Linked DNA regions of Homo sapiens: regions 2, 3 and 4 are each linked to region 1. Evidence: fine-mapped expression QTL. A gene starts in region 1. Each other region holds a variant in brackets. All regions are shown on one strand. Distances are from middle to middle.

Evidence for each region. PIP is the estimated chance that this variant, and not a neighbour inherited with it, causes the effect.
Region 2: its variant is fine-mapped to the expression of PARP11-AS1 in whole blood (TOPMed, PIP above 0.99).
Region 3: its variant is fine-mapped to the expression of PARP11-AS1 in whole blood (INTERVAL, PIP above 0.99).
Region 4: its variant is fine-mapped to the expression of PARP11-AS1 in T cells (TOPMed, PIP above 0.99).

What each region holds. Positions count from the first base shown.
Region 1 is chr12:3,866,133-3,874,766 of GRCh38, reverse strand. PARP11-AS1 (PARP11 antisense RNA 1) reads right to left here and starts at 4,595. Exons shown (of 2, transcript NR_183432.1): 1 at 2,811-4,595. PARP11 (poly(ADP-ribose) polymerase family member 11) reads left to right here and starts at 1,368. Exons shown (of 8, transcript NM_020367.6): 1 at 1,368-1,555. The coding sequence starts at 1,538. RefSeq lists enhancers at 1-398, 399-919 and a silencer at 1,591-1,700.
Region 2 is chr12:3,903,599-3,912,232 of GRCh38, reverse strand. PARP11-AS1 (PARP11 antisense RNA 1) reads right to left here. Exons shown (of 2, transcript NR_183432.1): 2 at 1,851-2,349. Among named protein-coding and RNA genes, the nearest start is that of PARP11, 35 kb to the right of the region's middle. The variant T/C (reference allele first, on the strand shown) is at 6,032.
Region 3 is chr12:3,898,077-3,902,783 of GRCh38, reverse strand. All of the region lies in intron 1 of PARP11-AS1 (PARP11 antisense RNA 1), which reads right to left. Among named protein-coding and RNA genes, the nearest start is that of PARP11, 27 kb to the right of the region's middle. The variant T/C (reference allele first, on the strand shown) is at 2,491.
Region 4 is chr12:3,888,898-3,897,531 of GRCh38, reverse strand. All of the region lies in intron 1 of PARP11-AS1 (PARP11 antisense RNA 1), which reads right to left. Among named protein-coding and RNA genes, the nearest start is that of PARP11, 20 kb to the right of the region's middle. The variant G/A (reference allele first, on the strand shown) is at 2,234.

The DNA.
Region 1 (8,634 bases):
GTAAACTATTTTATTTCCAGGAATTAATTCCAAGAAGTAAATGGACAAATGTGAAGAAATGCCTGTTGAAGGATTTTTTTGGGATAGTGAAAAATAGAAAACCACTCAAACGTCTATTCAGTAGATTATTTCAAATGTGTGTGTCTATTTGTGTGTACGTAGTATACGCATAAGTTATGGAATGCCATGAGTCTACTTTAAAATATGGCCGGGTGCAAGATGGCTCACACCTGTAATCCCAGCACTTTGGGAGGCCAAGGCAGGTGGATCACCTGGGGTCAGGAGTTCGAGACTGGCCTGGCCAACATGGCGAAAACCTGTCTCTACTAAAAATACAAAAATTCGCGGGACGTGGTGGCGCACATCTGTAATCCCAGCTACTCAGGAGCCTGAGGCACGGGAATCGCTTGAACTCGGGAGGCGGAGGTTGCAGTGAGCCAAAATGGCGCCACTGCGCTCCAGCCTGGGCGACAGAGCGAGGTTCTGCCTAAATAAATAAATAAAATGATGAAACAGATTTAAACTTAATGGAATGGAAGGATAGCCACATAATCTTTAAAGTGAAAAAAAAATCAGGTTCTAAATCTATAGGTATTCTTTGATTACATTTTTTTCAATGTGTAGAGGCATAGAAAAGTCCAGAAGGATCTATAATGAGCTGTTTAATTTTCATTTCCTATGGGGTAGATCCTTTGTTGCATGGAAGATTATTTCACTCTGTTAGCTCTCTTTACATCAGTAGGAATACATCCTCATGGTTTTAAACATCTTGAGGGAGCTTTCCTGACACTCTACTCTAGGTAAATATGCTCGCATAGCACTCTCTATTCACCATATTACCTATAAATCATATTGCACTTTTTAACTTTTCTAAACTACTTTTTGCTTTCTTTTCTAGATTATAAAATCTTGAGGGCAGGGATAGTATGTAAAGGTTCCCTTGTGAGCAAATAACCGTCACTTATTGAACTCTGTGTGCCAAATACTGTGCTAAATGCTTTCAATAATCTCACTCATAGGGAGATATTACTACCATCTCCATTTTGAGGATGAAGATATTGAAAGATTATGAAGTTTCTCCCAAATGCCATTGCCAGGCCTGTGTGACTCTTGGTCGTTACACGGTGATCAATAAAAATTTGTTTCATAGGAAAGAAATACAGCCAGCCGTGGCTTTAAGATCACTGGGTGATACAGTTGGACCAGAAACCCTTTAAACTCCTTCGTCAGACACAGACTCGCAAGCCCCGCCCAGGACGACCGCCCGCGCGCGTATGGATAAGCGTGCAGGGGCGGGGCGAGCTTGTAGGAGTGGGGCGGAGACAGATCTGACTGGCCAACGTCGGGCGGAAGTCGGGAGGTTGGGTGGTCTGTAAACGCTGGCTTGTGACAGGGAGGGGGAGGAGGAAGGCCTTCGTAAAGGTTGCATCTCCGTCCCTTCGCTCCCGGGGACCCGCGGGAAAAAAAAAAATCCAACACCCAGGCCCCGCGGCTAGCCCCTTCCCACAGGCTCTCTCCGCTCGATTTTGTCACCGTTATGTGGGAAGCGAATCCAGTGAGTAGCCGGGCGGGACGGGGCGGGCCCAGGGGGCGGGGTTGATGAGAGAGGGGCGGGAGGGGGTCACCGGAACTGCTTCCCCGCGCTCGCTTCAGTCTGGGTGTTGAGTTCCGGGACCGGAGTTCCCGGGCCTTTTGGCTTCTGTAGTCTGTACCTTTTTAAGCAGTGGAAGTGCCTGGGTGGATTCTCCAATGCTTTATTGTTTTCTTGTTACAATTATTTATTTTACTTCCCGTGATGTTTCAGCCTCATCCCTTCACCATTTGTTGTTGTTGTTGTTTTTGAGACGGAGTCTCGCACTGTTGTCCAGGCTGGAGTGCAGTGGCGTGATCTCGGCCCACCGCAACCTCCGTCTCCCGGGTTAAAGCGATTGTCGTGCCTCAGCCTCCCGACTGCCTTCACTGTTTTTTGAAACTTTGTGTTTTGCTTTCTAATTGGAGTAACTGGCCTTGGAACCTGTAGTCAGTCATTTGCCTCAGGTTTACCTGCCAGTCCCACCAGTCTAAAGCAAGGGAATTGGGACCCCCTTGTCTTGAATGGGCCTAAGAGGAGCCATCAGTTCTCCTTTTCCCTTCTTGGTGGACAGTCGTTTAAAACTTGGAGTATGGACTGTATGTTCTTAGATGTTTTCGTTCGGTGGACAAAGTGATCTGGAGCATTTCAACTGCAAGTCTGCCTTCTTCCTTGGCTGACTCTGGTATTTTCATTATGACTTCATGTGTCTTTGTCTACTTTGCTTTTATACATTTATTTATTTAAAGTGCAACGTAGGGGCCGAAAACTTTAGTACCTTTCCTCACCACCCATTGTAAGGATCACAGCCACCACTCCTTAAAACAGAAGATAGGTTAACAAGGTAAAAGCAGAGCAAATCTAATCAAAGTTTTACACCACCAGGCACTTCAGAGACCAGGGAGATCTCTATTTTTATGCGTAGGACCCATGAAGAATAGACAACTGTGTAAAAATGTGACTGGACAAAGGATATACTCTAATGTTAATAAACTGAGGAAGGAAGCCCAGCAAGGTCTGTTTGTTCAGATTCTTCTTGGCCTCTCTGTGTATCATTTCTTCCTCCTACGGAGGAGGAAGGTCCCTTCTGGAATGAGGGTCTTAGCGACCTACTATCAGGCAAGGTAGATTAGAGAATTTCTTTATGGCCAGTTCCTATAGACAATGGCAGGGAAAGCTTAATAGTTCCAGTTTTTATGGCTTGCTTTGTAGGAGAGGGATCCTAGTTTCTATCACTCACCTTGGGGAAGAATTCTGGTTTCTGTGACTCACTTCTGGGACGAAAGATGGGCAGGAGACAGAAGGGCAGGAGATCAGAGGGAGAGACTGCTTCCGAGGCTGCTTCTGAGGCCTTCCAATCTCTTTTAGTTCAAAGTATTCAGCATGCCAAAGTGTCATACTTCGGGGTAGTATTTTCTGAGCCCCAACACAACCCTCAGAGAGTGGGATCTATTTGCCAAGAGTATTCTTCTGTTGTTATGGTTGAAACTGCCTGGTAAGGTGGCAGATGTATGGTATTTAAAACTTAGGAGTTGACTGGAAAAATGGTAGAATCACATTTCAGCAAGTTGTTGGACTAAATACAGTCGTGCGCCTCCTAACAATGGGGATATGTTCTGAGAAGTTCATTGCTGGGTGATTTTTTTCATTGTGCCAACGTCATAGAGTGTACTTTCATAAGCCTGCTACACACCTAAGGCTATATGGAATAGCCTATTGCTCTTAACCTAGAAATCTGTACAGCATAGTATTGTACTGAATACTGTAGGCATTCGTAACACAATGGAAAGTATTTATGTATCTAAACATAGAAAAGATACAGTAAAATAAAGTGTTAACAATCTTTGGGACCACTTGTATATGCGATCCATGGTTGACTGAAAGCTTTTATGCAATGCATAATTGTGTATGAAACATAAGAAACTACTCCTATGCTGAGATAACTGCATAAATTTACTTTAATAACCCCTAATTTCCATATTTGCAATAATTTCCTATAATCAGTATTCTTCCCCTCTCATTTCTGGAATATATTTCCAGATAAGTTAGAAAGTTTATCAGTACATTTCCCTATGTTTTTAAGTTAAGTTTTTATCCAGTAGAAACTAGTCTGTTGGTCTGGATTTGGTAGTTGCACATTATGGTTCCTTCTTGTGCATCATATAACAATAGTCATCATCTTAGTATTTTCGATTCATACGTATAATACTCTCTTCAAGCTGCATTAGAGGAAAGTAATTACTTGTATTTGATTTTAGCAAAAATAATTTAGAATAATGAGAATGTGCTCTCTGCTTATATATTCAGTTTCACTATCTGTCATCAACAACCTTCATTTTGTATTTATATCTTTATGTAGCTATTATTCCCTTTTTGTTATCAGTCCTTCTTAATTTTTCCATAACAAACCCTTTAGCCACCCAAGTATATGTCTTACTCAAGGTTTTAAATCTTTCACTATATTGTAAGATCCACAAGGACAGGGGTTTTTCTCTGTTATTTTTCCTATAGTATCTTCAACTAGAGAACAGAACCTGACACATAGTAGGCACTCAATAAATATTTGTTGAATTCATGATGGTGGTTGTACCAGCAAGGACTAAAGATAATTCTTTGCTCCTACTATGAATTTTCCCTCCTGCGTCACACATACATCAGAATTTGCTGTTGGATTATTTGTGTGTTTGTGAGAATTATAAAGGCATTAATGAATGTCTTATATACTTGATTTGTTATATCATTATCTCATTTCTTTGTAAGCAATGGGTTTTCTTTGAAATCACCTGTGTGATTTTGCTAATTTCAGCAGAGCAGGCTGACTTTTGTTAAAAGTGGGGAATCCTCCACAGATCATCTCACATTCTTCTTTTGCCACCCAAATAAGACATATTTGTCTTACTGCTACTGTATTTTATTACTACTAATAGTTTTTCTTCCTATAAGCATATGAATGATATCAGTAAGCGCAATTTGGTTTTAAAAATCAACATTCTACGTGTGGGTTTCTCTAGTAATTTGTTAGTTTATTTTAGTTTCGCTTTCCTGGTTTCACTTACCACAATTTCACTTACCAGAAGTCAGCTGCGGTCTGAAAATATGAAATGGAAAATTCCAGAAATGAACAATTAATAACTTTTAAGTTGCATACTGTACTGTGTAGTGTGATAAAATCTCATGCCATTGTGCTCCATCCTGCCTGGGGCCACGAATCATCCCTTTGTCCAGCATATCCACACTGCATATACTCTACCTGCCTGCTGGTCATATAATAACATGTAATGTCACTCACTTATTTATTGAGCACCTGTTATAAGCTAGTTAGTGCGAAGTCCCAGGGTTTACAGTGGTGAACAGAACAGACTAGGCTCCAGCCTTTATGGGTTTGCAGTCTGGTGCAGGCAGGCAGATATTAAACAAATAATTATGCAAATACATTTAATTTAAATTGTGATAAAAAGATATGAAAGAAAAAGAGTACTATGACAGTGTAGGGGGAGCTAATACTAGACTGGGCAATCAGGAAAGGCCACCCTGTGAAAGTAACTTTTATAGAGATCTGAAGGATTGAGCAAGCGTTAGCCAGGTAAAGGTTGGCTGGAAGGTGGGGAGAGCTGTTCAGACAGCAGAGATAGTGTGAGCAAAGATCCTGAGAAAGAAAGGAGCTTGGTGCTTGAGAAAAAGAGAGAAGCCTATGTGGCTGGGACACAGTGCACCAGAAGACAAGCCCAGGAGGTAGGAACCAGGCCATGCATGGATTTGAGGCACATGTTTAGGATTTTGAACTTTATCCTTAGAGGAGTGGTAACACATTGAAGGAAGTGTCATGAACATATTTATGTTTTTAAAAAGATTACTCTGGCTGATGTGTGGAAAATGAGTTTATGTATTAGAAAATATGGTAGACGTAATAATGGCCTCCTAAAGATATCCACATATTAATACCCAGAATCTGTAAATATGTTGTTACATGGCAAAAGGGAGGTAATTAGCTAATCAGCTGACCTTAAGATAAAGAGATTACCTTGGATTATCCAGGGGGGCCCCAAAGTAATCGCAAGGGTCCTTAAAAGTAGAACATGGGGACAAAAGACATGGAGTGACTATGGAAGAATGGTCAAAGAGATACAACATGGCTGACTTTGGAGATGAAGGAAGGAGGTCACAAGCCAAGGTATGTGGGTAGCTTCTAGAAGCTTGAAAAACCACGGAAATAGATTCTCTCATACAACCTTTAGAAGGGAATCAAACTCACCTTGATTTTAGCCCATTGAGATGCATGTAAGATTTCTTCAGAAATGTAAGAAAATAAATTAGTGTTGTTTTTAAGCCACTGCGTTTGTGGTAATTTGTTCTAGCAGCAAAAGAAAATACTGAGGGGGATAAGGGGCTGTAGGAAGACTAATTAGGAGGTTATAGTGTAGTCCAGGGTAGAGACGAAGGTGACTTGGACTATGTGGGGAAAGTATGAAGTCACCTATGAAGGTGACTACTAAGTGGGGAGAGAGGAGATCAATTCAAGCTGCATCTTAGATGATGACTTAGCTTTCTGGCATGGGCAGCCAGGAATAAGATGTTTTCACTGAGCCATATGGAAGATAACAGGAGTTTGGTTCTGGACTCACTATGTTTAATGTGCCTATGAAGCATCAGGTAGTAAAGTTTGGAAGGCAGTTGGTTAGGGAGGTAAGTCTGGAGCTCAGAGAAGAAGGCTGGGCTGGAAATTGAAATTTGAGCCTCAGTGTCTATAGGTAGTCTGTCACCCAAGCTGGAGTGCAGTGGCATGATCTCGGCTAACTGCAACCTCTGCCTCCTGGGTTCAAGTGATTCTTGTGCCTCAGCCTCCTGAGTAGCTAGAACTACACATGTGCACCACTACACCTGGCTAATTTTTGTATTTTAGTAGAGACAGGGTTTCACTGTGTTGGCCAGGCTGGTCTTAAGCTCCTGGACTCAAGTGATCCACCCGCCTAGGCCTCCCAAAGTGGTGGGATTACAGTCGTGAACCACCGTGCCTGGCCCCCAATAAAACAGTATTTTAGAAATTAATGTTTTTATTATCATTGAGAAGGATGATTTTTTTTTTGCAGCTTCTTACAAAGTACTTATATCTAATTTGATAATAGTTTGAGATGTAGGTTAGACCACATTTTGATTACTCTGTATGTCTACTAAATTAGGAAATGTTGTGCCACAATTATAGATTGTCAGGAATTGCAACTTGTGTTTGCTGGCGCTGTCAGATGTTTAGGAATATCAAGGTCAAATACAGACTGAAAAATTATCGGAAGATTTCTCCCTGAAGATTATATCTTGTGCTCTTTCAGTTGCGTTATTGAGAAGCCTGTAATATTAGGGTGAATGTTTCAACCAGCCTGAATGTTTGGAAGATAGTAACAAATGGATTCTTAAGTCATTTTTTGACTTCTTCAGTATCTGGAAAGTATTTTCCCATGTTTTGTTTTAACATTTAGTCATGTTCTTTATACACACAATAGTGTAATCAGTCTCACTCTAAGAAGTGAAGAAAACCATCAGGTTTTGGGAAGGAATCACATCCTAGCAATTGAGCCATTTGCAACATAGCTTGGTGACTTTGAAAAATATGGTATTTTATTCTCAGCATTAAAAATCAGGGTATTTTGGCCCTGAAGTAGTAGGTTCACGCTATTTAAAATTCTAGATATATCTCTGCTATACTCCACTTAAGCAGGCCTCTAGAAAACATAGAATTACTTTTTGGTATTGTCAGCATTATGAAGAATTTTTTTGTTTTTTAAAATCTCATCCCTCATTTCAGAAACTTGTCAGCACCTTTTTTCCTTGACAGCCAGCAAACTTGCGTGGGAAGAATAATCTTGCAAACGCTGCCATTTCCTTCTGCAACATCTGAGAGCGCATACTCTGAATAGTCAATATTTGATGATGTTTAATTTCCATTATTTCCTTCAACACTCAGTTATAATCAGGAGGCATATTGTTGACTCCTGTTTCATATAAAGAATCTTTTAGTAACATAACAGTGTATGTTTTTGCTATTTGTATACTTCATGCTCTGTCAATTTTGAATGTGTGGCACCTTTTTCAACTTATGTCATAGCTCACAAAAGTATCATTGTCTAAATAAAAACTGTCTTCCCTGTACTATAAGTTTTCACTGATATGTAGAACAAAAAGTTGTTGAGTACTTTTACCTTATATACTGTATATGTGTCAAGGACTGATTTATATTTTCTCCACAGGTAGTTTGTCCAATTGTAAAACAAAATATATGCTAAAGCACTCAACATGACAGTAATTGCTCTTCTATATTGTGTTGCATGATAATATAGCATGATAATATATGACATCCAGTAGAATCATTTAATAAAGAATTTTGGTCAATAGCTTGTTTCTTCTCAGGCATTAAATTTGAATTGACTAGCTTCTCAGCAGTATCAAGAATTTTTACCTGTTTTAGCTGAGGAATGCGTCTTTTCTCTTGGTTTCTTCTTTGTCCTTATTAACAAAGCAAATGGACTTTGTGCTTTGTGTGAAAAATAATCTGAAAGTTTACTTGAGTTTTATAGTACTATATTTAAGTAAATGCTAACTATGGCTGATATGAATGTATCAACAGAGAGTGAATATAATGGGATATTATAGTGAATGGTAACTTTAAAGAAAATAAAGTGATTTTCGTACAAATTATTAATCTTACATTTCAACTTTTCAAAATGTATGTAGACAAATTTATTTCATTACTTTGCCCCTGAAAATGCCTGTGAAATATCTCATAATCCCTGAGGACCGTCTTTTGAAGATTCTGAGAGAAAACAAGAAGGGCTAGGACTGAGCCATGAGAAACTCTAAAAGTTACAAGCTGAGGAGAAGTCAAAGTGCAAAGGAGACTGAGAATTTATGGACAAAAAAATAAGATGATCTGGAGAGTGTCATGTCATAGAAACCAAGAGAAGAGTTATTCAGGACAGAGGATAAACTGTGAAATGTTACCGTGAGATAAGTAAGATGAGGACTGAAAAGAGCATAGGATTTAGTAATGTGAAGCTCATTAGACATCCTAGGAA
Region 2 (8,634 bases), 37 kb before region 1:
GGGGAAGAGTAAACCTCACTTATTTGCCAGTTCTCCTCAGATCCAGCCTTAGGTATGGGGAAGGAAGCCCAGGCATCCAGCCTTCAGAGCATTAGGTTCACGGTGCCCATCCAATAAAGCACCTGACCTCTCAGGGGTATTTTTGCCTAACTGTCATGTTTCCTCCCCTGCCTGGGCCCTCAAGCTTCTGCACATGGGGTTTCTGGAACTCCCAGCCTGGTAGCAGGTGTCAAAGGGGAAGAGAGACGGAAAGGAGCAGAGGAAATATAAGAACAATGGCTGAAGACCAATAACCCAAATACTACTGAAAGGGTGCTCAGCTGGGAGCCTAACTTTGAAAATATTGCTGTGTTAGTCCATCTTCATAGTGCTATGAAGACCTACCTGAGACTGGGTAATTTATAAAGAAAAAGAAGTTAGTGGACTCACAGTTCCACATGGCTGGGGAGGCCTTACAATCCTGGCAGAAGGTGAAGGAGGAGCAAAGGCATGTCTTACATGGCAGCAGGCAAGAGAGCATGTGCAGGGGAACTGCCCCTTATAAGACCATCAGATCTTGTGAGACTTATTCACTTTCGCAAGAACAGCATGGGAAAAACCCACCCCCATGATTCAATTACCTCTTACTAGGTCCTTCCCATGACACATAGGGATTGTGGGAACTAAACTGCAATTCAAGATAAGATTTGAGTGGGGACACAGCCAAACCAAATCAGTTGTCTTCTTAAACTTGAGAGAACTATAATGTGTGAAAGTTGTGTGGGCTCCAGGTCAAAAGTTAAGCCACAATCCTGACTGGAGACATGGTATGGATTTAACCTGTGGTGGGAAGGGGGATACACCATATGTGGACTGGAGTGGTCATTTTGTTGTTGGGGTTATTTGTACGGTGGCCCTAGTATAGATGTCAAGGACACCCTCCACCCTGTGCTGACTCCCACCTAGTAGAACAGGGTCAAGGAAGGGGAAAGGATAAGGGATTTACTACTTGATAATATCTGAAAATGGACGTTCAGTGGTTTGTTCATAAGACATTTTCTGCTGCTGTCAAAAATATCTTAGTTATATTCTTTTTGCATTCTGCATATCAAATTGTCCTTGAGATCAAAATGGTCCTGACAAGATGGAAAGATGAGCATCCTGTACCTCTGATGATGGCCTCTCTTTCTGTTCCCGCAGCAAGACATAAGGGACTGGGACCTGCACATCTTTACTCTCCCACTCTTAAGCTTTGCCCTCACAAATTCTGCCCACCCTTGCGTCAACATCATTATCTTAGGATTTACTTATTATATACGTACACTAATTTTAAATACTTAATATATTTTAGCTCTGTGTTTAACATTTCTTGTCACCAGTGTGCATAAGCTATGCCCATAGATGCCTCAACAGGCCCCAGGCCCCAGGCAAAGGTCTTTTTTTTTTTTTTTTTTTTTTTACACGGAGTCTCACTCTGTTGCCCAGGCTGGAGTACAGTGGTGCAGTCTCGGCTCACTGCAAGCTCTGCCTCCCGGGTTCATGCCATTCTCCTGCCTCAGCCTCCCGAGTAGCTGGGACTACAGGCACCCGCCACCACGCCCGGCTAATTTTTTGTATTTTTAGTAGAGATGGGGTTTCACCATGTTAGCCAGGATGGTCTCAATCTCCTGACCTTGTGATCTGCCCGCCTCGGCCTCCCAAAGTGCTGGGATTACAGGCGTGAGACACTGCGCCCGGCCTTTTTTTTTTTTTTTTTTAACTTGAACAAGCTAAAAGAGTTAGATCAGCAGGAAAAAAACATTGAAGAAATGATAGTAACAGAGATACCAAAATAAACTAGACAAAGAGAAAGTTAAAAAAGACAAAAAGCCTGGTGAGGAAGAGTTTAGTTATTATTTTCCAGGAAGGCAATGAAAGGCACAGACTGCATATCCAAAACCCAGTGGACTGTATAAGACAATATCCTCCAGGGCCCAGTGAAGCGTAATAGCTCCGAGACAGCTACTGATAATTCAAATGACAAAAGCCATAGCATGAAATACAGGCCTTGGGCAGCAGCATCTAAAAATAGGAGGTCCTCAGGCATCTCGGGCAAGATGGCCACACTTCTGTTGGCGGTGGTCACTCCCCATCTACATTCCCATAACATGGGCACATGCGGGTACTACACCCACACTGCTACCTTGTGGAGTTCTGTTTCTTCCCCTGGGGCACTGGTTCTTACAAGGGGACATAGATTGCTCAGCAACTCTGTTACTAGCACTGTCCTCATTAATATTTGCATCTCTGGATGTATGCTGCTCCACGTAGGAACCACTGCACACGTGGCTGTCGAGCACTTGATAGGTGGTGAGTCCAAGTTAAGCTGCGCTGTGAGTGAAAAACACACAACAGATTTTGAAGATGCAGTATTAAAAAAATAAAACATCTCATTCATTTTTGTATTGATTACATGTCGAAATGATACAAATATTTAATTTCGCCCATTTCTCTTTAATGGCTTTCATGTGTCCACTAGAAACTTTAAAGTTACATAGGTGGCTGGCATCTATTTCTATTGAACAAAGGTGGTCTAGAATTTGGTACAGTACCTAGCTCATCGTAGATGCTCATAGTGTGACTGGAAATGAAATGAAATGCAATGTACCACAATTAGTGTCTAGGAGTTGTCATTGATAACATTTTCTTCAGATAATATTTCTTTTTTTTTTTTTTTTTTTTTTTTTTTGAGACGGAGTCTCGCCCTGTTGCCCAGGCTGGAGTGCAGTGGCGCGATCTCGGCTCACTGCAAGCTCAGCCTCCCGGGTTCACGCCATTCCCCGGGTTCACGCCATTCCCCGGCCTCAGCCTCCGAGTAGCTGGGACTACAGCCACCTGCCACCACGCCCGGCTAATTTTTTTTTTTTTTTTTTTTTTTTTTTTTGTATTTTTAGTAGAGACGGGGTTTCACCGTGTTAGCCAGGACGGTCTCAATCTCCTGACCTCGTGATCCGCCTGCCTTGGCCTCCCAAAGTGCTGGGATTACAGGCGTGAGCCACCGCGCCCGGCCTTCTTCAGGTAATATTTCCTTCTCTTAGTGGCGATTTTTTTGTTCTCCCTTTCAAACATTCGTAGTTGCTTAACATAAAAGATCAAGATAGTAAACCAAAGGGCACTTCCAGATACTATTTCTGTAAATAAAAAATCTCTGTGTCCCTCTGTGTTATCCCCTTCTCCAGGATGTAGCAGTCTCTTGAGCACAGTGAGATGGCTCACCATACGGGGAGAAGCGGCAAGCTATCAACTTTGGATCTTTTCTGGAGACACTGAAATTGGTTCCAAATTCTAAATTGTCTAAACTCTAAATTCTTTTCGAGGTCATACAATGGATTCAAAGTCTATATCCATAAGAAATACTGCATCAATCAGAGCACATAACTAAAAATTATGTGTTAAATGTGGTTAAATTAAATAAAGCTTTGAGCTTGAATTAGGAATGTGGGGGAAAATGGAGATTTGGAGAAGAATTTCAGGCTTTTGTTTGCTGAATCACTAGGGAGAAGCAACGTCACATACGTTACATTTCAGGTTTTCAGAAAACTGTGACGACTATTGGAATCAGAGAGCAAAGTTGGAAGTTAAACACAGTGATAACTTCATATTCATTTTCTAGTTCTCTTACCCACATTTTCCACATATAACTTTTATCCAACACATTCCCTGTGTGGGAGAGAGTGAGCCCCATCACGTTGATCCCTGGACCAGGTGGGACTGGGCTAGTGGGGAAGGAGATGGGGGAAGGGGTCTGGGGAGGAGTGGGTGTAGACAGGCGCCAGGAGAAGACTGTGGTTTTAGGGTATTTGTTTGTTTGTTTAATTAGTTGTTAGACTGGATTTAGTTTCTCTCCCCAGAAAAGATACAGATTTGAGATGAATTTTAGATGTTTTTAGAACAGAAATTCTACTCAGTTGAATTTCTGTTTTTGCCATAGCCATGCAATCGAGCTGGAGGAAATGAAAGCACAAGTAACTCCCACCAGAATGAAAACCTTTTTGTTTCTTCCATGTCACAGAGCCTTCATTCTGTTTCTGAGGAAGAAATAGTATCCTGAAGGATTCCAGAAAAGTTGGACAATTAGACAAATATTTTTGCTCACACAGCATGCCATTTGGTACCAAAATTACATCCTCTTTGTAAAAAAAGGAACAAAAAACGTAACCCTTCTCCTGAGATAGAATTATAATTGATAGAAAGATAGAACTGAGTTGTTATAACTGTAAAGCATTTACACATATTAGAGCTTTTTCCATCGTATTTTTACTTTGCTCGAAAGATAACGGGCCGGGTGTGGTGGCTCATGCCTGTAATCCCAGCACTTTGGGAGGCCGAGGCAGGTGGATCACGAGGTCAGGAGTTCGAGACCATCCTGCCTAACACAGTGAAACCCCGTCTCTACTAAAAATACAAAAAAATTAGCCGGGCGTGGTGGCGGGCTCCTGTAGTCCCAGCTACTCGGGAGGCTGAGGCAGGAGAATGGTGTGAACCCGGGAGACGGAGCTTGCAGTGAGCCAAGATTGCGCCACTGCACTCCAGCCTGGGCGAAAGAGCAAGACTCCCGTCTCAAAAAAAAAAAAAAAAGAAAGATAACAACTCGTGCTAACATCCTCCTCCACTCTTTTTTGAAGAATGCCATGAAATTGAGGAAGGAAATGAGACTGTCTCATGTTGCCTTAAGAGTTGTAAAAACCACACTTTTACAAAAGGTGTATTGGAGTATGTCAATTGTCTTCTGCACAGAGTTAGCTTAATGGTAGTTATATAAGGCAAACTTCAGGATAAAAATTTGTCCGCTGCCTTCTCTTTATTTCTAAGTGCAGTGGATAAATATAGCACATTCATGTTGCCCAAAGCAGACACTTAGATAAACAGCAATTGTTATGGACATAACAATATGGCAATAAACCACATGTACTATATGCTTACTTTATCTTGCACATCATATGAATCATTCATTCATTTACTCAGTACGTGTGTACTGAGTGCATACTTTGTGCCAGGCCCTTTGCTAACTTCCAAGAATATGAATATGGAAAAGACAGTGTCTGTCTTCAGGAAGCTCTCAGCCTACCTGGAGGAGATTATAAGTACTAAAATTCACAATTCGATGACATTAAGTAGTATATAGAAATAGAATATAGAGGAATACAGAGAGCACTACATAAAGGTATGTAACAATACCAGCTGCACAGAGAAGGAAGAAGTAACTTAATCTGTGGGATCTGGAGCCAACTTCCCAGTTGAAATGAGTTTTCATGAAGGTCTTGAAGATGAAAGGTGTGGCAGGAGGGCTGTTCTGGATATGAACGTGCCCCAAAGAATAAAAGCACGTGCTGTGTTCAGGAAACAGGAGGCAATTTGATGTGAGTGAAGTGCGGGGTGCCTAGCAGTGGGAGTGGGAAGCGGATCTGAATTGTGAAAGATCTTGCATGCCAGCTTAAGCTTATATTTAATTTTTAGATAAAATTATATGAAATGGACCTCCGGTCAAACGGGCTCCCCTTAATTTCACACTTCTTCACATTCCCTGTGTTCTAAGTAAAAGACCATGAAAGACAAAGTATAGACAAGGAAAAAACAAACCTAATAAAATATACCCAAACATGGCCGGGCGCGGTGGTTCACGCCTATAGTCCCAGCACTTTGGGAGGCCAAGGTGGGTGGATCATGAAGTCAGGAGTTCAAGACCAGCCTGACCAGTATGGTGAAACCCTGTCTCTACTAAAAATACAAAACTTAGCAGGGCGCAGTGGCTCACGCCTGCAGTCCCAGCACTTTGGGAGGCCGAGGCGGGGGGATCATGAGGTCAGGAGATCGAGACCATCCTGGCTAACACGGTGAAACCCCGTCTCTACTAAAAATACAAAAATTAGCTGGACGTGGTGGCGGGTGCCTGTAGTCTCAGCTACTCGGGAGTCTGAGGCAGAAGAATCACGTGAACCTGGGCAGCAGAGGTTGCAGTGAGCCGAGATCGCGCCACTGCCCTCAAGCCTGGGTGACAGAGTGATACTCTGTC[T/C]AAAATAATAATAATAATAATAATAAAAATACCCAAACTTGAAACCAAGAAGAAAGCATCTTTATGGATGACTGCAAGCATGAGGGGGGTAAAGCCGTGGGCTTGCAGGGCTCTGGACCCCAAACCAGGCAGCGATGGGAAGGAGTGTGGCTTGGATAGGATAATAGAAACTAAGTGTCTACTCAAGAAACGATAGAACCAGGCTAACTGCTGAAAGCCAGGCGTTCTCAGAAGCTGTGGAACTACAGCGATCCAAGACCCGGCCTTCTAAACAGGAACTGATTAGAAATTTAAAGCTGATATGAAGCCAGCTGATTCAAAGCCAGCTCTGTGACTGGCTCTGTAATATTCTCAATATCACTGTGGGCCAGGAGCCCCAGAAAACTATCTTGAGACTCAGCTGTGGACCAAGAGTACAGCGTGCTGGGTGAAAGCATCTGCAAAACTTCTCAACTGGGTACAAGAAAAAGCAGAACAAGTGAAACAAAACAAAATGCCTTCCATTCAAAATAAGCCTGCAGACTTTCCAAAATATATGTAGAAAATAAGCGCTAAGAAAAACAGTCAAGAAAGTCAATAGTTCACTCCAGTTGAGAATAATTTTATGAAACAGTATGTCAAGGACTTAAACGGTAAATTGAACAGTAAGACTTGAACAGTAACACTTAAGGTGACTAAAGACGTGGAAAAGGAATTAGATGCCTTAAAAGTGAACAAATATTGGGAAACAAAACAGGGAGAAATGGAACAACACAGTATATCAATTACCTTCGGCTGCATCACAAACCACCCCCACAACTTAGTCACTTAAAAAACCAACCTGCATTATTTCTTATGATTCTGTGAGTTTTCTGGACAGTTCTTCTGATGCAAGCTGGCTTGGCTGGAGCTCAGTGGTCTAGGATGGCCACACTTGCACGTCTGGGGACTTAGCTCAGATCATTCAGACAGCTAGGGTCTTTCTTTTTGTGATTCTTTAGGAGGCTAACCTAGGCTTGCTTCCGTGTGATAGCAGGGTTTCCTGCAGCCAAAAAAGGGCAAACTCCAATGCACAAGAACTTCTCAAGCCTCTGTTGAATTATATATTTGCCAATGGCCACTGCTCAAAACAAGTCACATAGACAAGACCAGATTTGAGGCTGCAGAGGTATACCCCACTTATTGATAGTCAGAGTGTCAAAGTCACATTGCAAAGGGGCATATATGAAGGGATGGGGCAAATTTGGGGCAAACCACCACATGTAGACAGGGAAAGCAATCAACTGAAAATTTTTGAACTTAAAAATATATTCTGGAAATAAGAAAGCCAATATTTACGATAATCTCTAGACTAGGCACAGTTTAAGAGATAATTGGTAAATTGAGAGTACTGACAAATTTACCCAGATCTAGTACAAAGAGACAAAGAAATATAAAATTCAAAAGAGCAGAATAGTTATGAGCCCTGCAGGACAGACTGAGAGACTCCAACACATCTCTAATTTGAGTACCAGAGAAAGGAAAAGAGACTGGAAGAAATGAGAGAAGTCATTATTTGAAAAGATTGTAGCTTAGAATTTTCCAGAGTTAGAGAAAAATATGAGAACTCAGATCAAAAGTGCACTTTGATGCAGGTCCACATCACAATGAAACTGCAGAGCATCATTAATAAAAGGAAAAGCTGCCAGTGGGGAAAAATAGATTACTTAAAAAAGATTAACACTTAGACTGAAGTTACATCTTACATTTTTCTATGAAAAATTTAAGGTGTAATAGAATAGAAACCAAGAAGGTAATTGAACCCGAGAAGATAATGAAGCCATACCTACAAACTGCTGAGGGAAATTTCTATCTAGCTAATTCTCATTCAGCAATGAGGGATGGGCCAGGTGCTGTGGCTCTCACCTGTAATCCTAGCACTTTGGGAGGCCGAGGCGGGTGGATCACGAGGTCAGGAGTTCAAGACCAGCCTGGTCAAGATGGTGAAACCCCATTTCTACTAAAAATACAAAAATTAGGCAGGCTTGGTGGCGGGCACCTGTAATCCCAGCTACTTGGGAGGCTGAGGCAGAGAATTGCCTAAAGCCAGGAGGCGGAGGCTGCAGTGAGCTGAGATTGTGCCACTGCACTCCAGCCTGCGTGACAGAGCCAGACTCCATAAAAAAAAAAAAAAGGAATGAGGTGTGAAGTTAAAATTAAAGAAAATAGTAATAAAACAGAGGAGGGAAGACTTTAACAGATACAGAATATGTATGACCACCAAGAAGAGAATAACATTACCAAAAAAGTTTAGATTTGTTCATACAAATAAGTGTATAACTGTTAAATATTTAAAGATAGGGATAATCTTTTTTTTTTTTTTTTTGAGGTGGAGTCTCGCTCTGTCACCCAGGCTGGAGTGCAGTAGTGCAATCTCAGCTCACTGCAAGCTCCACCTCCCGGGTTCACACCATTCTCCTGCCTCAGCCTCCCGAGTAGCTGGGACTACAGGTGCCCACCACAACGCCCGGCCAATTTTTTGTATTTTTAGTAGAGACGGGGTTTCACCGTGGTCTCGATCTCCTGACCTCATGATCTGCCCGCCTTGGCCTCCCAAAGTGCTGGGATTATAGGCGTGAGCCACC
Region 3 (4,707 bases), 30 kb before region 1:
TGCACCTAACAACATAGTTTTAAGTTATATAAAAGGCCAAAACAGATCATTTTATACACATAGTAGATTTTTAATATTCTTCTAACAGCAAATGAGAAATCTAACAAAAAAAACTCTGTAAGAATATTCGAAGAAAATATCTATAAATTTATCTGTTTTATATAGAACTCTGTACCCAATAAAAATTATAAATTTTTCTTCTTAGAAAATTTACAAAATTGGCCATATTGTGAAGACTTTAGCAATTTTCAAAGAATTTATATTATGCATATTTGTATCAATATGCAATTAAATTAGACATCTGCAAGCAAAGAGGAGAGGTGTTTTTTTGTTTCTGTTTTTGTTTTGAGACAGTCTCACTCTGTCACCCAGGCAGGATTACAGTTCACTGCAATCTCTGCCTCCTGGGTTCAAGTGATTCTTGTGCCTCAGCCTCCCAAGTAGCTGGGATTACAGGCATGTGCCACAGTGCCTGGCTGAGAGTTTTTTTTTAAAGAAGTTAAAAAAAAATAAAAAAACTGCATGTTTGGAAATTTAAAAATATCTTTCTAGTTAACTTTTAGATTCAACAGGAAATAATAATGAAAAGTTGAAAATATTCTAAACGAAGTGAAAATAAAATAATCACAAAAAATGTGTGATGCAGTAAGGTAGTATTAAAAGATGTGATTAGAACCTAAAATTTATCTGTAAAATAAAAGAAAGATAAAAAGGAAATGAGTTTGCAGTCAATTCAAGAAGGGAGAAAATAAACAAACAAACCAGAAGGTGCCACAAAGGGTAGAAAAAAGGAAATAATAAAGGTAAAGTAAAAATCAATAAATTAAGAAAAAATTACAAAAAGTTCATATAGTTAAAATTTGAGTTTTTGAATGAAAGAAAAATTTCTAGTGAGGCAAATCAAGGAAAATGACACAAATAAATAAAATATTAAGAACAAAAAAGGGAACAGAAACAAAACACATTAGAATAGAGATTAAACAAACCATAAGAGAAAATGGAAAAATTTATGCAAATAAATTTGAAAATTCAGAATAAAAGATTAAGGTTTCTTTTGCAAGGATACAGGAAGAATAGATACTGGGATGAAATTAGCAATCTTGGCCACACCTTCTAGTCCTACTTTATTGAGTTTTTTAAAATCATAATTTGATAAATTATAAATTGAATGTGCTTTCTTTATCTTTCGAGGAAAGTGTATGTTTTCCCACCTGAAGGTGGGAAACGATTAGGATGGTGGAACAACATGGTAATAGGATTCTGGATCTCTGAGACTGCAGCACACTAATTGTGTCCTGAACTGAATACCTCTGGATATCTTGGGCATGAAAAATAAGTTTCCATCTTGTATAATCTACTGCTATTCAGTCTTTTTATGTTGCCTGCAACCAAGCCTAATCCTAACTGATACACAAACACTTTAACAGAGACTATTTATAAAAATATATTACAAAACCACTCATAATGTCAAAGTACTATGAATGGTGCCCCCTAGAGTTGTGCTATGGAAAGGTCCTGAAAGCTGAAACTTGATAATTATTCCTATCAGAGTCAGGAGGAAACAGCTGCTTACCATATCTACTCCTTTTCAATATTGTATCTGAAGTATAAGTTAATGTAATAAGGCAAGAAAAATACATAATATAAGAATTTAAAAGCAGAAAGAAAGCTGTTCTTATTTTCAGATGATATAATAGTCCGTAGGACACTTTATAAACTATTAGAATTAATGAGTGATCACTAAGCTGGATATAAGACCAACAAACAAATCAATAGCCTACTTAATCACCAGTAATAGACAATTAGAAATGTAATCTTCAAAAATGTCATATTTGCAAAAATGTGTAGGATGCCTGTGAAGAAAATAATAAAATTTTATTGAAGGAAATAGAACAAGACATGGTATATTAATTAAGGTGTTTTTACATGCAAGTAACATATATCCAACAGGAAGTGTCTTGAAGTAATATTTATTACTTCACATTACATGAAGCCCAGCATGGGCAGGTTCAGGGTTGCTTAATCCTGCAACTCAAGGATGTCATCAAACACTCAGGATCTTTCCATCTTTCTGCTGAAGCATCTCCAACAAGGCTTTTATCTCAGGTTTGTCCTCTCCCAGTTTCAGGATTGATGTCATAGTTAGAGTCTATGTGTAAAGACCTCTTCACATGACTCTATTCCAGAGGAAGTAAAAGAAGTATCTCTTTGCACATCTATTTTTTTGTTATCAAACTTTTCCCATAAACCTTTATCTCATGTCCCCCAGGATTGAGTCATGAGGCCATGCCTATGGAAGAATAGGAAAATCTCTCATATTTTCAGTCTCTAATATGGGAAGCATTCTCTGTAGATAAGAAAGGAAGTGGAGTGGGCTAGTACTGATGAGTAGGCAACCAAGAGGTCCTGCCACATCCAAATAAATGGATGGGACGACTCAATATCATTAGGTTGTCAGCTGTCCTTCAATTTTAATATATTAATCAAGTG[T/C]AATTACAATCAAAATCAAAATACTTTTTTTATGGAACTGGAAATGCTCATATTAAAATTAATGTAACAGAACAAAGGTTCAAAAACAATTTTGGAGGAAAAGAAGTGGAGGCAGCTGTCCGACTAGAGAGCAAAACATTTTATAAAGCCATGATAATTAGATGGCATGACTGTGGCACAGAAGCCACAAACTAACAGAAGACGAAAGAGAGTCCAGACACAAGCCCATACATATATGGAAATCTGAGATATGAGAGATGGCATGTTTTCACTTTTGAGATTGTGGTTCCACAAACAACAACAAAATTCATGGCTTCTTTGATGAAAATGAAAGTCTCACGCACCCTCAAAATAATGTGCTCTCCTAAAAGTGTCGAGAATTATAGTATTGCCTATATATAGCTCTGGTAAGCAAAACAAACGTATTCATGAACAAATTGCTTTGATTTTTCTTTTCAAATAATTATTGTATTGCTTCTATATGCTATAAGTCGTACTTCACTTCCTCCCAAGATTCTGAAATGTGCACCACTCTTGGATCCGCAGTCCCTCCCAAATGGGTTGGCATCTCTGTGCCAAGCAACAAGAAGCCTAAGAGGAACTCAAAACAGGGGGCTGGCATGATCGGATGTGCATTTTAGAAAGATCACTGGGCGGTGGGAGGATGGGATACAAAAGAAAAATAACATGCCCTTAAACCCTTGTCCTAAAGTGTTTAAATTGTAGCCGAAGAGACACCAAATACAGAGTGTAAAGGACAAAGAACCTTCACAGCCCATCAAAGAGTGCACTAGGAACTCACACAGAGAACAGCAGCATTGCATCCTGGGAAGTGGCAAGGAACTAGAGGTGGATGGCTGGGTTTTGTCACTCCAGCACTTTGGGCCTCAATTTTCTCAACTTTAATAGTGGGATGATGTCAATATCTACTTCCCAAAGCTGTTACAAGAATTAAACTATAAGTTCTATCTGCAAAGTGCTTTGCTGACTGTAAAAAACTACCTAGATATGAGCCAAGGCCAAGTACACAGACGTGTGTTCTAGTTCTGAGCTACAGTGCTTACTCTAGCAGTGAGATTAATGTCATTGACTTCTTTGCTCCTTACCTGACTTGGATTTCTACATGTGAGCAAGGTCAAAGGAAGGCAGTTTGATAACTCAGAAAGAATCACCAAATCTTCTGATTGGAAGGCATCTTTGAGGTTATTATTTCAGTCTCCCACTCCATGTAGGAATCCTCTCTACAAGTTCCTGACCCAGGTGGTTGTCTTATCTCCGCTTGCACCTTGCTGTCATGGAGATGTTACTCCCTCACAAAGCAGCTCAGCCTGTCTGTGGACAGTGGGCATTGTTAGAAATAGAGCTGAAATCAGACTCCCTTCAGCCTCTGTCCACTTGTCTTAGTTCAGCCCTCTGGAACAACACAAAACTAATTCACTCCCTTTCTCATTTGACAGCTTTTCAAGGGTTTGAAGACAGCTATCAGAGTTGTCTATGTGTGCCCTTCTCTGGAATAAACGTTCCCGGTTTTCTGAACTGCCCCTCTCAGGTCGTGGTTTCTAAGATGCTTCACTAGTCCAGTTATCCTCCCTGGACTGATCACTGCTTTGTCAGTATCCCCTTTTAAAATCTAGTGCCACCTTCCTGCCACCACATCTAAGTGGAAACAGCCTAAATGTCCAAGAGCAAGTCAATTCAAACAAATTATGGCATATCTACACAATAGTATGTTGTATAACTATTAAAACTGGGTTTCAAAGAATATGTAAGTTGAGGAAATAATTCAGGACATAATGTTAGTTTTTTAATGTAGAATATAAACACTACCTAACCCACATTTTTAGTACTTCCATGTGCCTCATGGAACACAAGTCTCCAGAAGAGACTTGAAGGACATATACCAAAATGATAACAGTAGTGATCTCCAAATGATGAGAGCTAATTTTCGTTTTCTTCTTCATACATTTCTGTACTTCTAAGTTTTCTACTATGAATATATTTTGCTTTCGTGATTTACAAAATACAAAGACCACAAAGTTGAATGTGAAGAAGAAACATGGTACCAGGAATAAGCCCTCATGCTCTGAGGCAGATGGGCCAATGGCACCCTCATCACCCTTGCTCTGCCTGTTACAATTCCCCTTATGCTACCTGGCAAACACTAGTTGTTTTGTAGCCATGTCAGAATTTTTTGGCTCATGTTGGGCTTTTTGTTAA
Region 4 (8,634 bases), 23 kb before region 1:
TGGCTTCTTGAGATTACCACTTCCTTTTCAAAGCGATTGTAATCTAACTCCTTAATAATGCAGCTTACAGTTTGCTGGGGATCAAAGTTAAACTCAACAGTGCAAAGTTCCCCAAACCTACATATTTCCCCTTTTGACAACTCGGACAGTTGCCCATCACTAATCTTCTGGCATCACTCCTGAGATTCCTGAAAGATTACTGACAATCATTCTATGATTAAATCTACAAATTCTTTCAGTCCCCAGGGATGGAATTTGTCAGGGCCTGGAGATCTAAGCTTATTTAGAGAGCCCAGGTATTCATTTTCTAAAGAGCTTCATAACTAGGGCTGCAATTGCTTCTTTGCAGTGTTTATATTGTTCTTTCCAGTTTGAAGATCATTCTGAGAGATAGAGATGATGGAAGCTAAGTAGGAGTTGCATAATTCTGCTTTGTATCTGTCATCTGCTAGCATTACACCATCTGCCCCAAGCACAGGATCTGGCCCTTCCCTATTCTTCCTGCTCAGAATATACTTGCACAAAGCTCTTTTTGCTGTTCCTGAGCATTTTTTGCAAGTCTCAGCTCATTCTGAGCCCCAGCCTTGCTAACACTATGGCTACAAGCCTGTGACACTCTTTGCTTTTCTTCTCCGGTGATGTGCCCTGCTTAGTGCTTTTGTAAAGGCTCTTTGAAAACCTGAGAGTGCTGGAGGGCTTCCCCTGCTGGCTCGGGGTCTTCCCTTTGCTTCCTAGTCAGGATCACTGGAGACTGTATTGCCAGAATTTAATTTTGGAAAGAATGTTGCTTTAATGCTTCTTCTGTCCTCTCATTCTTTGAAAACAAAACAACAAAACAAAACAAAATAGTACAACAACAACAACCACCACAAAAATCACAGCTGCAAATGAGGTCTGATTAGAAACCAGTACAGTGTATTTAGGCTCATCATGGTAAAAAAAAATCTGACAAATGATAAAAAGCGTTGCTTAGTTTGCTTTAAATAAGAATGTGGAGGAACTGTTTTTTCTAGTTCATTGTGCAATGAGAAAAAAGGGAGGGAGCAGAGATCCAAAAAACAAGGACAATTAATATTGAGTAGCAACTACGTTCTTTCATTTAATCTTCATGTCAGTCCTGGAAGCACTGTCCTGATTTAGAGATGGAGAAAAATGAAGCTTAAGTTAAGTGACTTAGAGTAACTTTGTAAACCAGTGGGTAGAACCAAGGGTCAAACTCAGGCAGTGTGATTGGACTGCTCATGTGCTTTTTCCTACATTACGGGTATAGGTAAGCAGCTCACAAAACCATTCCACCCAAAGATGTGTTTTTTGGACCCTATGGCATTTAAAAAAATGTTTAGATTTATTGCCGACATTTATAACTTAGGAGATTTTACGTTCACTTCTAGAATCCTAGCTACTTTTGAGAACCTCTGGCCCTACATTTCCCCCATGGAAACCATTGGCCAAGTGGAGTAGTGGCGATCTGCCCTCTCCAGGTTGCCCCAATCCCCACCTTCCCCCTCATTTATATTCCCCGCTTGGTCCTGTTAGATGTTTGAGTTTGCACTGCCTTAGGCTATGCTGATACTCCATTGTTTTTCCTGGTTTCTGAGAGAAAGCCTTCTGCCATATGGAAAAGAAGGGAGCAAAGGTTATGAAAATCAAAGATATGTCTCTTGCACTCAATTCGGCCTTATTATTCCCCTGGAAAGGGCCTCCCAGAATCTTAAGAGGTTCCGAAAAAGAGTGTGCTTGTTTCACTCAGCTTGTCCCAGGATCCTCCATTCCCAATAATGGACTCCCTTTTGCACTGTGTTTCTTAAACCACAGAGTCTAACAAGAACATCATTCAACTTTTTAAAGCCTGTATGTATGGGCAAGAGAGCCTGTTCATATGACCTTCTAAATAGGACTCTTGGGCACGATCAGAATGTCTGGCTAAGCCTGCCTTCGTGGTTAGACACCACTAACAGACCATTGAAAATATGCACGTCGTAGATCATAGAGTGGACAGAACCTAGGCTGAGGATCAGGAAATCTGTTTTTTCATCTTGGTTCTGGTGTTAGAGGGATACCCAGTGCATAGAACATCACAGAAACACAGACCTCAAGGGGTAAGTCCAGAATGGGGGCTGGTAGTTAGAATGAAGACTATAGAGGGAATCTGAATATCATTTTGAAGGGAGAGATCCATCCATTCATTCAGTCACTCTGTGAATATGTATTTATTATGCACACACTACATGTC[G/A]GACACAGTTTAGGCAATGAGAATTCAGAATTGAACCAGACAGACAAAAATCCCTGCCATCATGGAACTTACATTTCAGTAAGGAGAGATAGACAAGTGAAAAAACCAAGTAAGTAAATATCTTTGGTCAACTGGTAATAAGACTGTGGGAAAAATCAAGCAGGGTAACTGATGGTTATGAAACTTTGAGGCTGGGAGAGGGGGGTATTTAAAGAAGGTAATCAAGGCCTCTTCACAGGGAAAGTGAAATTTCAATTCAGGCCTGAAGGAAGTAAGAAAGCAAGCCATGGGGATTTTTTGAAGAAAAGCATTCCAGGTGAAGGGAAGAACAAGTGCATAGACCCCGAGGTGGACTGTGCCCGGCATGTTTTAGGGCGAGCAGAGGCCAGGATGGCTGGAGCAGAGTATGCAAAAGAGACAGCCATTAGACATGGAGTCTGACAGGTGACAAGCGCCCATACTGTGGAGGGACTTGCAGGACATCGTGTTGAATACTGATTTTTGCTCTTATTATCCTGGGAGGCAGGGAAGTGACATGATCAAGCTTATAGTTGAACAGGATAACACTGAGAATTCTGTTGAGAATAGTATGTAGGCAGCTAGGGCAGAAGCGGGAGAGCAGTTAGGGGGCTGTCACATAGTGGCTGGGCTAGGGAGTAGCCTTGGAAACAGCAGAACATGGTTCTATTCTGCACATAATTTGAAGGTAAAGTGAACAGGATTTGCAGAGGCATCAAAAGAGAGAGAGCACATGTGAGAGGAAGCTCTAAGGGTTTAAGCTTGAGCAACCAGACCCATGGCCATTAACCGAGCTGGGAAAGGCTGTGGAAGGAGCAGGTTTGGCATCCAGACCAGGAGTTCTGTTTTTTGATACATTCGGATACCGATTAAACATTCAAATAGAGATTGTGAATAGGCAATTGGGCATGTGCATGTGTAATTATAAACATGGGCATCAAAACCATATTGATTATGTTTAAAACTCATAGACCGAATGAGATCACCAAAGAAGAGAGTAGAATTAGAAAAAAGAAGAGATCGGAGTACTGGGCTCTGGGCATTCTAACATTACAAGGTGGGGACCTGAGATGGAATCAGCAAGGAAACTGGAAAGGAGTATCCAGGAAAGCTGGAGGAAAACCTGGGGGGGAAGTCTTCTCAGAGGCCAAGTGAGGAAAATGTATTCCAGAAGAATGGAGAGATCAACTGTGCCATGTGTTACCTGAGGTGTCCAGGATGATGAGGACTTAGAAATGACCATAGGATGTCATGGTGAAGAGATGATTGGTGACCTTGATAAGAACAGTTTTGGCGCTGGTGGTTTGTGCATCGGAGAGAGAGTAGGAGGGCCTGGGTGCTGTGAAGTCCTAATTAGAATGACTCCAACAGAGGATGTGGGAGAAGAGAGGTCTGACATGGTGAGCAAGAACAACTATTTAGAGGAGTTTTGCTGTGTAGAGAAGGAGAGAAACGGGAGGAAGTGGGGTTAAGAGCGGTGTCCTGTGTGTGTGTGCGTGCGTGCATGTGTAAGATGGGAGCAGGTCTGAAGGCTCATGGGATTCATCCCGTATAGAGAGGAGAGCTGATGATTCAGAAGAGAGGGGAGAATGCTAGGATAGTGGTGGGATCTGGGGCGCACATGGACAGGGTGGTCTTTGTCAGGAAGAGAGCTACCTCATCCATGGTAATGGTATAAAAGCGAGACACAGAGTGACTGGTAAGTCGATTGACAGAAGCCGATAGCAATAGCTGGTCTCCTCAACAAGCCAAAAATGGGGTGTGGCAGGATAGAACTCAAAGGGCCAGGTCCAAAGGCTCATGGAGCTTTTGGTTGGTAAGGAGTGTATTTATCCCTCCTTGTAACTGAATCCGAAAGACATCAAGTGGAGGAATGCTTTAAACCATGAGACAGGGCCAGGTGCAGTGGCTCACACCTATAATCCCAGCATTCTGGGAGGCGGAGGTGGGAGGATAGCTTGAGCTTAGGAATTCGAGACCATCCTGGGCAACATCTTGAGACTCCATCTCTACAAAATATTAAAAAAATTAGCCAGGTATGGTGGCACATGCCTGTGGTACCAGCTACTTGGGAGGCTGAGATGGGAGGATCGCCTGACCCTGGGAGATCCAAACTGTAGTGAGCTATGATTGAGCCACTGTACTCCAGCCTGGGGGCAGAGTAAGACCTTGTCTCAAAAATAAATAAATAAATAAATAAATAAATAAACAAACCATGAGACAGAGTACACCTGAGAGTCACAGTTAGGAGCAAAGACTGGGAGTTGCCATCAGGGCTGAAGGCTAAAATCATGAGACTGGATGAGCCTATTGAGAATGAGGAGAGCGCAGGCCAAGGAGTGAGACTTGCAGGACACCGACACTCAGGGACTTAGGGAGCAGTGAGAGAGAGAAAGAGAGAGAGAGAGAGAGAGAGAGAGAGGGAGAGAGAGAGAGAGAGTGAGAGAGAGTGAGAGTATGTGTCAGGGTGGAGCAGGAAGCAGCAAAGGCAGAAATAGGGCATTGCTTTGCTAGTTCATAGCCTACTTTCTTCCCTAAAGAAGGGAATACAACTGAGCATGCAAGAGAGGACCAGATGTAGACAATTTCCTGAAGGAAGGAGACATCAGCTGGGCCACCTGCTTCAGGGAGGCCTGGGAAGAGGGGAGGCTTGGAAATATCACCAGATTTGGGAAGAAGGTCACTGGCTATTGAGGGAGCAGGTACAGAAGAGGAGTTTGGGCAGATGCCCAATTGCAGGGGCTTAAGATGTGATTAAAGGAAATGGAGACAGGAGGAGGGTGTGAGGCCATACCCATTGAAATAGTGCTCCTATGGAATGAAAGAAAAACATACGGAGGCTCTAAGGACCAAGCACACAATCTTACGGGAGTTCTAGCATGACATCAGAAGGACTCATGGAGTGGACGAGATCACGGAGAGAAAGGGCCAAGAGACTCTGGAGGTGATGGTGCACCCACGTGGTTCTCAAGATTGTCTGTCTAGGTTTTCCTTGTAGCTCAGCTGGAAGCTTCACATGGCAGGTGGAAGGACATTTCCAGACCCTTCATTACTGCCATAGCTTTTGGAAAGATTGAATACAACAAGGGACAGGGAAGTGTGATGTATTGTGTCCTAAAAACCCCTCAGAAAAGACAATTTGAAGCAGAACATATAAATGATATCTTGTGTTACTTTCCTCATTCCCTTTCTTATTTACTTTTCCCACATGCCTCTAAGTCTGGATGCAATTGTGTGTCTCTAGGAGGTGTTCTAACAGGCTTCTAGTCACCATGAGAAATCTTAGAGTCTCCTCTTGGAGCTGATGACTTCGGGTCTAGACCCTGAAACATAATATTCTACTATTCACAGTAGAATGAAATGGCTTCAAGTCCCTGCATGTCCCATGTATTACATATTTAGTATGTAATACTTACAAGAAATGTGACCCTGGACAAGGGGCGAGGCTTCCCTGGGCCTGGGTTTTCTCAGGTAGAAGGAGAGCATGGTCGTACCTCTGCTGCCCAGCCTCTCGGGGAGCAGGCTTTCTTCCCGAGCGATGCAGCAGGAGAGCAAGGAGGAAAGGAGGTGACAAGGCAGAGCAGAAGAGGAGAAACTGGGTGGGGAAGCCAGAGTCCAGGCGATGGACTGGCCTGGGATTTGTAACTGGACGGAGGCTGAGGTGGGTTGAGGGTCTGGGGCTCAGGCATGGCAGGGATAAGGGTGGCTTCACAGGAAGGACTTCCCAGGGCAAGTGCTTTCCTTGACTCAAAGTGACGAGCTTTGACAGGGCTTTGGGAAAAGGGGGAGATGTGGCTTAGGTGATATGCTTTCTGGATGACTGTCGATCACGAGGGAGCTAAGGTGCAGGAGTTTACGTTCCCGGGCCTGATGATGGGGACAGCCCAGCACGTGGCCGGGCAGTTTCTTCACACACTTTTAGTTTTGCTTTCTTGTAAAGAGTTCCAGTGTTATCATTATGTTTAGCAGTTATAAACACTCCCGTTTATTACAAGCTTACTAAACACCAGCTTTACATATATTTGCGTGGGAAATTTGTACTTATCACCCCCAACCAAGCCTATGAAAGCACCGTACAAACACTGCTTTGTAAGCCTTGGACTGACTTGTCAGTTTGCAGCTTTGCTTATAATGGTACACGGTTTGGCCTTTCAACTCCTGACTTTTTCTTGGTGATTGAAGACTAGAGGTAGTGACCACAAAGGAAGCTAGAGCCTCTTCTCATGTGTGTGAGGAGGACTCTGGAATAGGAAGAAGGGTGTCTGTGAGTGCTGGACTGGGCATGCCGCCCAGGAAATAAGATCCTCACTTTGTCCTGCATTTCTCCTTTGGTATCAGCCCCTGGCCACAGTGGAGACACAAATCACTATTGTAGCACCTGTCATCCCACGGAGTGTGATCTGTTTATTTGATTGTCTCTCCCTTAAGATGGCATGTGACCTTTTTGTGAGCAAGGTCTCTCTCTCTCTCTCTCTCTCTGTCTCTCTCTCTCTCTCTCTCTCTCTATATATATATATATATATATATATATTTTTTTTTTTTTTTTTCTTGAAGCAGAATCTTGCTCTGTCCCCCAGGCTGGAGTGCAGTGGCACAATCTCAGCTCACTGCAAGCTCCGCCTCCCGGGTTCACGCCATTCTGCCTCAGCCTCCCAAGTAATTGGGACTACAGGCACCCACCACCACACCCAGCTAAATTTTTTTTTTTTGTATTTCTAGTAGAGATGGGGTTTCACCGTGTTTGCCAGGATGGTCTCGATCTCCTGACCTCGTGATCCACCCACCTCGGCCTCCCAAAGTGCTGGGATTATATGCGTAAGCCACCGTGCCTGGCCTATATATCTTTTATATAACTCCACGTCCCTAATGCCCATGTTCTCAACAGGGTTTGGTACACAGTAGATGCTCAGCAGCACATGTTGAACAATTGAATGACTTCTTGTCTCTGCTTTGTTTCTGGCATGCTTTGTGAGCTTGTGCACTGTTGATTTTTGGAAAGGCATTATTTTTCCTATGTTACAATCTTATCACAAGTCTTTTCTCACAGCTATTTTACTATTAGGACAATGGTGTGATTCTACGGTGTTAACTGACTTATTGCAACTTATAATTTACTAGGAACAAGCATTTCACAGTGTTGGGGGTCAGGGAGGCCAATCCTCCCTTTCCACGCGCTCACATATTTAAACAATCCATGTCTGCTGGGATGTATATCTGGTATGATATCGAACACACAAAAATAGTTTCTCTATTATTAAAAACTGTAACTATGCCACTTTTTAGATAAAATGTAAACCTGGCCTCCAACCCAAAGATTTAGGCTGTCTTGGCCAATATAGGGAAAGTTAGATTAGGATAGGGTTGGCATCGATGAGTTCAATTAGTAATTGTGTGTATTCTGCAACTTTTCTCAAATCCCTTATCTATGGTGACAGGGGAGGAAAGTGAGCTAGTTTAAGAACTTCATTATCAATTGTATAATAAATCCTTTTATTCAGATAAAGGATTATTATACGTTTTAAAATAACATGCTTTCTAGTATTAAGCTACCTGAGCAATGGCTCACCTTTCTGTTACTCCTAAATTGAAAGAGAAACTACCATGTATTACATAGTTACCCAAATGCTCTGATCAGAAAAATTATATATAATGGCTTCAAATTCATTCAGTATTTCTCCATGTTTATTAAGCATCCCCAGAACAGTACTCAATGTGGGAAAGGCAAGGAGAGCTGGGAGAGAGGACCCCCCAAGACATGCAGATCAATAACAATACAATTCAACATTTCCACACCCAGATGTCACAGATAATATTATTTTTTAGTATCAGATGATCTGCACTGAATGCATTAGAAATTTAGAGAAAGGAGGGCCGGGTGCAGTGGCTCACGCCTGTAATCCCAGCACTTTGGGAGGCCGAGGCGGGCAGATCATGAGGTCAGGAGATCGAGACCATCCTGGCTAACAAGGTGAAACCCCGTCTCTGCTAAAAATACAAAAAAATAGCCAGGCGTGGTGGCGTGCGCCTGTAGTCCCAGCTACTTGGGAGGCTGATGCAGGAGAATGGCAGGAACCTGGGAGGCAGAGCTTGCAGTGAGCCGAGACTGCGCCACTGCACTGCAGCCTGGGTGAAAGTGTGAGACTCTGTCTTACAATAAATAAATAAGTAAAAGCTCATGTTAGCCTAACATAAATTTAATCTCACACTCCAGCCTGGGGGACAGAGCGAGACTCTGTCACAAAGAAATTTAAAAAAAGAAAAAGAAAGAAAGAAATTTAGAGAAAGGAGTGTATCATGATGTGGAGTAGTTAGGAAACACTTCCCAAAAGAGAATTGGTAAGTAAACGGGGCTTTAAAGGAGGGGTAGAATCTGACTGAGAGAC